Linked DNA regions of Homo sapiens. The protein of the gene in region 1 interacts with the protein of each later gene in a biochemical or structural test. Each region holds a gene or a part of one and is shown in the gene's direction. Other genes may lie near its edges.

What was found.
Region 2: the proteins of PCTP (region 1) and PAX3 form a complex in vitro, tested with the Homo sapiens proteins (one study listed by BioGRID).

Annotation. Positions count from the first base shown.
Region 1 is NC_000017.11:55,754,044-55,761,075, forward strand, and holds part of PCTP (phosphatidylcholine transfer protein), read left to right. Parts: exon of another isoform or gene 1-45; intron 46-7,032. UniProt on the Homo sapiens protein: Catalyzes the transfer of phosphatidylcholine between membranes. Binds a single lipid molecule.
Region 2 is NC_000002.12:222,199,363-222,205,006, reverse strand, and holds the end of PAX3 (paired box protein Pax-3), read left to right. Parts: intron 1-2,816; coding exon 2,817-3,063; coding exon of another isoform or gene 3,064-3,083; exon of another isoform or gene 3,084-3,294; intron 3,295-3,564; coding exon 3,565-3,599; coding exon of another isoform or gene 3,600-3,603; 3' UTR 3,604-3,766; coding exon of another isoform or gene 3,767-3,833; 3' UTR 3,834-5,120; downstream 5,121-5,644. UniProt on the Homo sapiens protein: Transcription factor that may regulate cell proliferation, migration and apoptosis. Involved in neural development and myogenesis. Transcriptional activator of MITF, acting synergistically with SOX10.

The DNA of each region.
Region 1 (7,032 bases):
AGACTCCTGTGACCAAATGTCTGAGGATTTCTCTCCAAACACCAAGTAAGCAGTCAGTTTTGCGGTGGACGTCAGCTAGGTGTCCTCCTGTTCAGTGTTGACACTACCTACCTGGAAATAGTGTCAGATCCCGTAGGTTGAGGTCCCAGTCCCACAAGATTAACCCCCTCTTCCCTGCCACTTGTAATGCCAGTTGAAAGCCCCAGGTTGTTTTACCTGTGCTTCTGACCAACTGGCTGTAAATAGGGGATCCCATGACCCCCTCCTTGGATTCAATTAATTTACTAGAGAGGCTGACAGAACTCAGGGAAACACTTGCTTTCATTTACTGGTTTATTATAAAGGATACTACAAAGTATACAGATGCATAAGATGAGATATGGGGGAAGGATCTTGGAACTTCCATGCCCTCCTTGGATGCATCACCCTCCAGGAACCTCTATGAGTTCAGCTATCCAGAAACTCTCTGAACCCCCTCCTCTTGGGTCCTTTATGGAAACTTCATTGGCTAGGCATGATTGAAGCATGGACAACAGTGTTGAAATATGACTGGACAGAAAGGGTCTGATCTCATATTAATAGACTGATTGGGGAAACCCAAGAAGGCCTGTCCAGATTCTTCTGGCCTCTCCATGCGACATTCCTTCTTCCAGGGTATGAGGCAGGACCCTCCCTGGAATGAAGTTCTTGCAACTCTTGGCTCAACTCCTGAGGCCTAAAGTGCACCAACGTACAAAAGACTGTAACGAGGGCTATGAGAGTTATGAACCAGGAACAGTGGATAGAAACCTGTGTGCGCGCGTGTGTGTATTGGATGTACAGTACTGGAGTATGTATGTGGGTGTGTGTGTATACTCTATGTCCAATACACACACGCCGCCACACATATGTATACACACATATGTAAATTATATATTTATATACACACATATACATATGTATGTATATGTATACATTTTGTATATATAGCTCATAATATCACAAGTACTGTATTCAGAAAGGAGACCAGAGACAATTTGTTTATATACTTCATTGAGCCTTTATTGAGGATCTGCAATGGGTCAGATTTCCATCTATGGAAATGGATCTGAGATAGAGTTGCTCCCCTGAAGATTCTAGTGGCTTAGTTATGAAGTTATGGGCGTCGGTTGGACTGATGGTCCTTTAAGGACCCGATTGTGCATAGCATGCTTGCCACTGTGTGGTACGAGCTGGTTGTGACGACCCTTCACTTTGCTTCCCACACTCAGCATAGAGGTGGCCAACCTAAGGCCAAAGCTATGTGGCTTCTTGGGGCTCTTGAGCAAGATTTGAAACAAGAATAGAGAAAAAGAAAATTGTGACCATGATTTAAATGATGCTGTAACAAAGTTACTGTTACATGTTTTTAAAAGACTGAAAGAAGAGTAGAGGCTCTTGAAAGAGATTTCAATGTAGCAAATTGTATTTTGAAATAAAAATAATAGAATTGTGTCCTTTTTTTTAGTAGACACAAATTATTCTGAATCCTGTTCTTGGACAAGTGGGCAATTTTGATGTACAGCTTTTGATAATTTTTTTTTGTTTTCTATTTTTCTCTTAAATCACAAAATTCTGGACTGGAAAGTTTCTTCTAAGCCATGCTGTCCAACACCATTATCTTTTTCCTCTACTTCTTCTTTCTTTGCCTACTCTATTTCCTTCCTCTCTTATTTCTTCTCCATGTTGTAATGATAATAACTTTATTTGATGCTGCAAATTATAAATGCTGTCATATAAGTTTTCACTTATCCTTCTAAAGAGATGTGGAAGATAGGCAAAAATGGGCTTACTTTACAAATGGAAATAAGATCCAGAGTTGTTGAGCGAGCCACATGAGACCTCATAACTAATAACTAATGTGAACAGTCTACTATGATAAACTCAGTACCAAATACACAACTTGCTTCCATACAAGAACTACATTCTGTTTCCGGAGGCTAAAGCAAAACTAGACCAGGGCTGCCATGGGTATTGTGGGAAAAGCATGGATTTTGGAGTCAGATAGTCCTGTGTGAGAGTCTCAGCTCTGTTCCTCTATCATTCATTTAAGCATTTGGGAGATATTCATCAACTGCCTCCCATGTGCTACTGTCTTCATAGACCCTGGGGATAAGTGGTGAAGAAGGAACATGGTGCTGCTGCTTCAATGAATGAGCTTCTTGAACATGGATCATATTCATTGATGAGAATAAGCCCATAGTATATGATGAAATGTCCAGTGGAAAATGCTATAAAGTACTTTAAAGAAAATGTTATAAAGAAAATAAAGCGAGATAAAAGGATAGAGAGATGGCATGGCAGGGTAGCCAGGGGTGATGTGATGTGTTTCAGATAAGGGAGTCCAGAAAGGCCCTCTGTGGAAGTAACATTTGGCCGATTTGAATAATGCAAATATCTGGAGGAGAAATGAATCTGAGAGTGTTTCTCAAAGTTCAAGCACATTGGAATCACTCGAGACAGCTTTACAAACCATACCAAGCCCTACCTTAGGGATTCAGGTTTAACTGGTCTAGGGTGGGGCTTTGGTGGTCCTTTTGAGAGGCTCCCCCTTCACATAGGGGTTAATTATTTTGTCCTCTCTACTTTCGTGTATGTTTGAAATCTTTCATAATAAAACCGTTTTATACACGTGTGTGTGTGTGTATTATGAATGTGTGTGTGTGTGTGTGTGTGTGTGTATATATGTATATATATATTTAGGCTTCTCAGGAGATTCATATGAACATGCTGGCTTTTAAGCCACTGAGATAGAGGGAACACTGGGTTCTAGTCCCTCAGCCAGGCTGAGCTTGCCTCATTTTCCAGGAGGAGCCAGGAGGCCCACAGGACTGGAGTGGATATGAGATTGAAGAGTGGCCAGGGGCCAGGCCCTACTTACTGGCCAGGTGATATTGATCAGTTACTTTTTCATTTTGAAATCTCAGTTTCCTCATTTGCAAAACCTGGATAATACTTACCTTTCAGGGTTGTTGAGAGGATTGAACGAAATGATAACATGGCAGAATTGTTCTCAAACTTGAGTGTGTATTGGAATCTCAAATTTGAGCATGCATTGAGTGTGCATTTGGATATATATATGTACACACACAAAAGCATGCATTGAGTGTGCATTAGAATATATATACACACACATGCTTGTGTGTGTATATATGTATATATATACACATATATACATGTATACATATATACACATATATGTGTATATACACAAGCATGTGTGTGTGTGCATATATATTCTAATGCACACTCAATGCATGCTCAAGTTTGAGATTCTAATACACACTGAAGTTTGAGAACCATTCTGCCATGTATCATTTCATTCAATCGTCTCAACAACTCTGAAAGGTAAGTAGTATCCTGGTTTTGCAAATGAGGAAACTGAGACACACACACACACACACACACACACACGTATGTATATATATATGTGGAAAATACTATATGTGTATATATATACACACACATATAGTATATATGAATATATACACATGTATATGTGTGTGTGTATATATACTAATCACACTCATCAATGAATGTGATCCACGTTCTCATCAATGAATAAGTTCTATGTTCATGTATGTATGTGTATAGATAGATAGATAGATACTCTTCTTTTTTATGCATTATATTTCTAACCAGCTGCTGAATGATGCTGAGGCTACTGGTCCGGGAATCACACTTTGAGAACCACTGGTGGATGGGGAGCATCTAGCATGGTGCTGAGGCAGTTCTGACATTGAGAGCTAAAGTCAGAGGCAGGAGAATACCCTAGAGATGAGATGCAATGGAAATTGAAAGATGAAAGTGAGACCAAAAAATGTCTTAAGACAAAAGCAACATCCATTTTAGGGCTCCCTCTCCCTGATGTTTAAGTTAGTGGTCACTTGGGAGTAAATGTGGTCCCCTGAGCAGTGCTGAGAAGTTTCCCTGAGAGAAGGGCCATGGGTCACTTAGAAAAGCTCTTCCAGTGATCTGCAAGTCAGGCCCTTGCAGGAACTTCAGGCTTCGTTACCATGCCATTAACCACTGCCCATAGAGTGTGGAACCAGTGCGCAGAGGCTCACAGCTTCAATTTAGAGAAAATAAATGTTGGACTGAAAAGCTCTGGCTGATGGCTTGACTTATTAAGTTTTTAAATCTAAATATCTGGCACTGTGAGAAGGGGCAGCCTAAATTGTGTTTTTGTCCTTGAATAGGGCTTCTAATCAAAGAGTTTGGTGAGGAGCAGACAGTACTTTCCCAGGGACTGTTCTTCCCTGTGCTCTTGACCTACTAAAATTCTCAAAGACCAGCATGACTGGAAAAACTGCATTTGGGCAGGCTGGGCTGAGAGAAAGTTTGGCCTTTAGAGAGAAACACAGATCCATCTCACAGGAGAAGAGATTTCACTCTATAGATGTGAAATCCCTACTCCTATTTCCCCAGATGGGATAATAAGCCAATTAGCATCATGAGCCCCATTACTTCAGGATTGTAAAACTGTTCTGCTCCTTTCTGTCATCCTTCTGATTACCAGCGTGATTGATAGAATCATTCTTGAGCCCTGGTCACTTATGGAGCTGAAATTTACTTGTGGGCAGAGCCACCATGTCTCCAGGACACCCGTCTGTGGCATTCTACTTCCCACCATAGACCAAGGCCAGCTCCTTCTTTTCTGTCTCCCTTGAGTGTGCAACTGGGTAGATAAGTTAGAGTCTCAGTTTTTCCCTCTCCTCGCATCTGTCTTAGGATAAGCCTGTGGGTATGAGGCCATGCGAGAATGCTGGTCTCAAGGTTCAGATTTGGTGGAAGGAGGGGAGAGGAAGGAGTAAGATGCCTCCCTTCTGTCTCCAGGTATAAGCCAAGCTTTATGCTCTCACTCTGTCTTTCACCAGATTGCTGTATGGCGATTACAGGAGGTGGCTATTAATAAAACAAAACACTGATATTTCATTCAGCCTTGGGAATCCCTTGAGAAGAGAGATGACTTGTAGGGAAGGGTATAGGCATTCTGAATGCTTGGACATAATACCATACCAACATCTGGAGTGAACCAGCAGGTGAATCTGGGGCAATGCTGAATAGAGGTTCTTGTCTCTATACATGTGCCTTTTCTGGACATTTTGCAGAACATCTTTAAGCCTCAGTTTTCCTGTTTGAAAAGTGGGTTTACTGATGGTCCATACCTCGTATCATTATTTGGATTAAGTGGGATAATCCATGTAAAAGCACTTGGATCAGTGCCTGCTGTTCAGTTAATACTCAGTAAACATCAGCTATGAGTATTGTTTTACCTAGCTGTGTGCAACCCTGAAGGATTAGACCTATCACATTTTCTTAGAGAGGTCTTAAATATTAAATCAGATTTAGCCAACTATCTGTCTTTGTAGAGTCTTGGCACATACTTCCCAGCAGCAGCTGCAGCTTTGACTTCTGCCATTAGAACTGCTTTACTTTGATGAAAAATACTTATTTTTCATACCATCTGAGTCTATTACTTGCCCCAAAGTGGATGGACTTGGACAGCTTTTAGATAAATAGATTGGGGGTGTTTCCTGTCCCTCTGAGGAATGGAAATGAGCGCTTCTGTGAGAGGCAAAGAGAACTCAATGCACACTCATGAGTGCATTCACAGGATTTGAGAATATGTGATTTATCAAGACCACCTTGTAGTTAGTGGTGTAAATTCAGATAAACACCATAAATTGGAGGTAATGAGTGGTGCCTTTCTCCAGGCCTGGATGGGTGATGGGACATCTACAGGAGATTACTCCTGTGTGGGGATTGCAAGTGTCATTTGCAAACATTACGACATTTTGACACATCTCATATGTAAATGCATAGCATCTCTTTCAGAGTTTATTCTGTTTGGGACAAATAAGTGTACTGTTGACAATAATATTTCTCAGAATACTTTAACCTTGTAAATATAATTGAAAACAAATTGCACAGATGTTTTTTTTCACGCATTTGAATCACCATTGCTGAGAAATATACCAGTTTAATGTTTCGACAAGTTAGCCAGCACGATAGCATCTCAAAAATTAGTGATAACAGTAACAGATTTCCTGGCCATGCATTCCCCTGTCTCCAGCCTCCATTTCTTCACTTATAAAGTGGAGTTAATGATGCTTACATCACAGGATTATTGCAAGTATTCATGATTAAGCCCAGCCTGGCTTAGAGCAGGTTCACTGTAGATATTGGTTTTCCTGAAAATGTACATTACAGTTCTGAATCCCAGTTCTTTAATCTGGAAAAAGGAGATTATCGTACCTACCTTGTTAATGAAATAGTAACCTACCTTATTAATGGGAATGATATCTAATATTTACTAAGTACTTATTATGTGCACCACATAATAGAACTTTAGATGGATTATCTAGTTTAATCCTCATAATCATTCCATGAAGTAGAAACTTATTAGACCCATTTTGCAGGTTAGTAGTGGAAGAGGTTAGATTCTACCCAGACGGTGAATCTGAGCCCATGCTATTACCACCACACTGTCTTTTCTGACTAGCTTTTCTGATTTATGAGACAGCACTTTGGAATAGTATATGGAAAAACTTGGCACAGTACCTCATCTGTTGAAAGTGATAATATTCATCTTTCTCTATACCTGCCTTTCTCCTGGTTCCTTTCTGAACCCTTCAGAAGCAGCATCTAAAAAAAAATACTTCTTCTGGCCCTTTGGAGGCCTGTTGGGCAAACACACCAGGCTTAGGGACTCAGGGGAGCATCTCAGTGGGAGGTCCGTTCTGGGTGGCCTGGAGCAGGAGTACTGGCTTAGGGAAGGAAAGGGTTCCCATCCAGGCTTTGCCACCAACAGCGTCATCAGCTGACTCTTGGCAAGTCACTCACATTACACAGCTAAGCTAAGACCCCTTCCTGCTCTAAGATCCTGTGTGATGGGTCTTCTTTATCTTTATCATTAGTTTGTGGTCTGGAACAATGATTTGGGAATGACATGCAGAGAAAATACAGCTAAATAAGGAGACATTGTAGGGAATAGAAGGGGCCAGTGTGCAA
Region 2 (5,644 bases), on another chromosome or scaffold:
TTCAAAGTTATGCAAACAAAAAATGTATGGCAGGGGATTTTTTTAAAAAGTTTATCACAAAAATGTACATATAGCTCATGGGAAAGTGTGCATGTTTTGAATAAAATTCTGCTCTGAGCTCATCAAGTATAACTGTACATACAGCATTCCATTTCTCCCTTAAAGTGACATACCATTGACTGAATTTCAAGTAAGTATCTTCATGAAGGACAATATTAATTTAGAGTTTATTTTCCTTTTATTTAGTGCCACTGGATATCTTTCCTCTCTGGACTGATATAGTTACAAAATTGCTTTTTCTAAGATTTCGAATTTTGCTTAACACAACTTATTCATGGTAAAATATTTGCCCTGTGCGATTATTCCCTTTTATTAAAAAAATCACATTTTAAAGTGTTTTTATGTTCATGTCCAATCTCACCCATCAGGATCACACACGAAAATGTACTCCTGATTTGAAAGGAGTGTGTTTGGCACCAAACAACCTCTAACTTAAAGACTCTTTTCTTCTAAAAGAAATGTCTAATTTGGGCTGAAATTTCATAAATAATAAACTAGTGTATCAATTGAAGTTCATGAATTTTCCAAGTATACACTTATATAGAAATCATCTATATAAGCTCAAATAAAGGCAAAAAGAACCCATATAGATGGAAAACATATCCAGGAACTAATTTAAATGCATTCTTAGTTATGTTCAAGTTCTTTTAAGTAGTGAAATGAAGAAATTGCTATAAACAATGCTGGGTAGGGCCCTAAAAGAACCCACATTCTAGTGATTTTCCATCTTCCTGGAATTGTCAATCCTATTGATGCTTACTTTATTTTGTGACTTTCACTTTCTCCAAATCCCCAATAAAACAAAATTGGGCTCTGCCACAAATGATGTTTTGTGTGTTTTTTTTAAAAATATAACTAATTTTTAAAAATTGTAAAAAAGGATGTTTTACCACATATCTCAAAAAATCTTAGATTCCTGGGATGTCTTTCAAAATGTGGGCTTTGCTGTGTTGCTTTGCCCACACCAGCCCACCTTCCCATGTGTGTGCATAGACAATAACTCAAATGAAAGAGAGACAACAAAATGAAAAACAGGATTTCTGGGGAAGGCAGGGACATCCGTTCAAATTTTCTGTTAAAATGGAGGAAGAGTGGATAATTGATAATCCACAGAAGGTGGATCTCTTTTTCTCTGTCTTTTGGGGTCAGCTGAAGATGGATCAGCTCAGAGCTTTAGTTCAAGAAGATTTTACTTAATCATAAGGATTATGCAAACCCTTCCCAAAGGGAATTATGGGATCCTTGTTTTTGGAATCTGAGTTGAGATGCTTTCTGGGAAGCAAAACTAGACCCGCCCCCCGCCTCACCTGCCTCTCAGATTCCTGCCTTACTGGAACTCCTAGATCCGAGGTTCTATTGCCTGAATTATGAGAGTTATTCTGCAGTTAGCATGAGGGCTTATAGTCAGGGCTTGGTTGTCATTTCTGCCCTCTCCTCTTTCTCTTATTTGCACACTTTAATCTCTGTAGGCTTCACACTTCCTAAAATAAGACAGGACTGTTATGGAAATGTTGTGGAATTGTTGGATACTGCATTTAAATACTTTGTAAGTAGATGTGTCTTCGGGGGGGCTCTTGACCTGGCGTTAGATTTCTTTTGCAATTGCTTTTGAACCCTGCCACAGAAGGGTACATAGTTTAGAAAAATCGCTTCCTCTCTCGTGTGGCAGTTTTCCAGCTGCAAAATTAATTATCCACTTACTTTCACCACAAGGTGCTGTAAGGGTCAGGGATCTTGAGTTGGTGAAGCACTTCACCATGTTGATCTGAAAGTTATTCTGTCACAGGATATTTTTTTTTTTCCAAGTTGTCTTACTGTCCAGGTTATTTACAAACTGAACTTTTTAAGACCATGTTTGCATTTCAGGCTTGTCTTTCCTTTTAACACTTCATATATATATATATATATATATATATATATATATATATATATATGAAATGGTTGTTTAGAGAAGAAATAAAATAATAGGTAATGGAGGCTTTTACTTGGAGAATCATTTACATTTCATTCATTCGGCACTTAATATGTGTCAAGCATTCACTGCTTTAGGTGCTGGGATATAAAGATGAATAGATTGCTCCTCTCAAAGCTCTCACCAGTCAAAGCAGGTGACTGAACTAATGAATATACAGTGGGAGGGGTAAATAAAGTACCAGAGACCATCAGGAAAGGAGTAAATATTTCTAATTATCAAAGAATGGCCAAGATAAGGAAAGGGGCTTTCTTGAGAGGGAACACTATTTAAAAAAAAAAAGGCACAGAGATCTCAAAGTACATGAAAAATAACTTGATTTGGATTCATTTATCTTTTAAAAATATAAGCAAATGACTGTTTAAAAATCACATGTGAAACTTCCAGATATAATGTATGAATAGACATTTTTCTGTATGAACAGATACAATTTCTCCCTCTTTTCATCCTTTTTTCCCCCTTCTTTGAAATTCCAGTCTGATTTTATCACTAGGGACGTGGTGTAATCTCTCTCTTTCCTCTTCTCCTTCCTTCTTTTCCTCTTCCCCCTCTTCTCCCCTCTTCTCCCTCCCCCTTTCCTTCTTCTGCAACTGCAGTCAGATGTTATCGTCGGGCATGATGTAATATCTCTGCCACTTAGAATTGGGTTCATAGTCTCCTGGACAGCTCTTTAACCAATTTCCAAAGAAATAAAAACTGGACTGTCAAGTTATTCTTTCAGCTGTAGGCTGCAATCTGGATCTCTCTGCATTTTAACCTCTTCCCAATCTGGCTGTTTTTTTAGGTAATGGGACTCCTGACCAACCACGGTGGGGTACCTCATCAGCCCCAGACTGATTACGCGCTCTCCCCTCTCACCGGGGGTCTGGAACCTACCACCACGGTGTCGGCCAGCTGCAGTCAGAGACTAGACCATATGAAGAGCTTGGACAGTCTGCCAACATCTCAGTCCTACTGTCCACCCACCTATAGCACCACAGGCTACAGTATGGACCCTGTCACAGGCTACCAATATGGGCAGTATGGACAAAGTAAGCCTTGGACTTTTTAGGGGGCAATTTCTCCTGGAAGGGAGATAAACTCAACTCTTCCTTAAGAAAGGTGAATTAGAGGCAAGATTAAGCCACACATGCCGGTATCAATTTTTTTTTTTTTTTGCAAAGCCAGCTGACTGTTCCAGCAGGGGCTTCCTTGTGTAATTATTTTCTTAACTGATGTCAACAACATCTTGCGGTTATTAATTGTTGAGACGTGAAACCTGATTGCCACTAGGTAAAACACAAGGGTTGGCCAAAATGAAATAATCCCTGACATTAGAAACACATGTTCTTAATGAGGTCAGCTCCAGGATCATATGGGGGATAATCCCAGGGACACAAAGTTGTGTCAAACTTGTCTCAGGAATAAAAATATTAGTCTCAAGCCTTTGATAGCACGGTATTAAATATGACATTGTCAGCCTGTAGCTGATCTTGCCCCTGACTGTGAATTGTCCCAGCATGACCTAAAAAGCTGCGTGTGTTTCCTTACAGGTGCCTTTCATTATCTCAAGCCAGATATCGCGTAAGTGAACTGTCCACTTGGAGCTAAAACTGGCCCTGTTTCTGGTCTTCGCAGCCTAGATATGAAGAATCTGCTCTGAAAACAAAAAAAAATTACCCTTTTGTTGGGGGGGGTGGGGCAGTGGTCCCAATAGGAGACAAAGGAGAGTGATTGATTTTCTTCCTCCAATAGTTGGTTTCAAATCCTTTTGAACACGTTCGACAAAAGCAGTGGAGAAGAGGAAGACCTGGAGCAATAAAAGACAAATGCAACATTTTAAGGCAATGGTTTCACATGGTTACATATCAAAACATCCCAATTCTTTAGTGCTGATCATCGAGGAGCTAGAACATTCCATTTGCTTGTGTGCGTGCGTGCGTGTGTGTGTGTGTGTGTGTATTGAGATTTACCCAGACTGGTTTGGGCAAGCAGACTGTTCTAAAATATAATAGAATACCCTAAAGTATAACATGTCGATGTTCGATGCTGATACTTCTACAACTTTAAAACTGCTCATTTCATGAAGCAAGAATGGAGGAATCCTTGACTCTTACACACTGGAAATTGAAATAAAGATAAATGCAACCATTTTTAGGAAGCTAGACTAGCTGTAAAGGACCTCCTAAATAAATTATTTGTTACTGTATCCTCATTTGTAATCTAGTTGTCAATAAATGGCCCGGACATGTCTTGCTAACAGGATATGGGCTACCAGGAAGAAGGACTTGTTTCCCTTTCCTGTGTGGGGAGAGGTGTGTGACGTTTTTCCAGTTCACATTTATTTGGTAGCCCACCTGGGTTGGAGGAAGGGCACGGTGGAGAGAAAGTGACATGCATTCACATATCTGCTTATCAGTGTGCAATACTGTGTACCTCATGGATGCTTTGGCAATGCCCAAGGCGATATAAGCAAAATCAGAAGTATATTTTTGCAGGTGCTTTTATTTTCACAGCCCATAATTCATAGTGATAGAGTGCAGTGATGTTTGCCATTTGCTGGACAACCAACACCCGGGTTGCTCCTTTGATTAGAGACCAGATCAGATAATTATGCTTTTAAACTGATTACGTTTACATTCTTCTCTTTTCTATGAAAGGCAGGGCAAGAACAGAAGTGTTCACATGGCTCTCATGTACTTTTAAATTATACAATGATATCCAATATTAAAAGATTATAGGAACTGAGGTTTACATACGTTTGTGTGGTGACATTTTAGAATGTCAATAAATTTGCTTTTTGAGATGTTGAGAGGAACAAGAAGGTGGAAGGCAGTGTTATTTATTTCTTTCTATTCTTGGAACCACGAATGAGGTAGGCACAAATACATTCCTTTTAGAGTTAAGAACTATGACGTAGCGAGTTAGTGAGACTAGACATAGTACCGAATTTAGTTCATGCATTGGTCTTAGAGGGTGATGGAACAAGAGAAGTACTATCTTTGTGTTGCAGCCTCAACCAACAACAATGTGTTGTAAAAATGTCTTTCATGTAAAAAGTGCAGTAAATATTTACTATTTATAATGAATAAACAGTTATGAAAACTTGCCCACTACTGCTTTTTTGGGGGAACTGGTGAATGTAGTATAAATGAAAACTTGGCAATGGGGAGCCCAATGTACATGAACTTCACTTCTGGTGGACCCTTTCTATGAGAGTATTCTGTCGACAAATAAGGTTACACAACCCACAGTTGTATTCTCTTGAAGAAGCTTGGTTGAACACACTTTTAAGGATTGAAGTTTATGTTTTTATCAGTGTAGCATCTAGAAAAACCCTTCAGTTTAGCTTCCTTCATCTTTCTTTGGTTCTCTCAGAGTTATCCAGTCCCTTTACTGTCACTTAGAGATATGTTTTCCCTGGAGTACCCGGTTCCATCTTCATCTCTAAGTCATCTCCACGGAAATTTTTATTTAAAACTCTCATATTTTATTTATTTTATTTTAGCAGCCTACTTTATTCTTCATGAAAGGTATTACTGCGTACTTCATTCATTCTTCCTTTCTTCCTTCTCCTTCCCTCCCTCTCCTGATCCTTTCTCCTCTCCCTCCCTCCTTCCCTTCTTCCTGAAT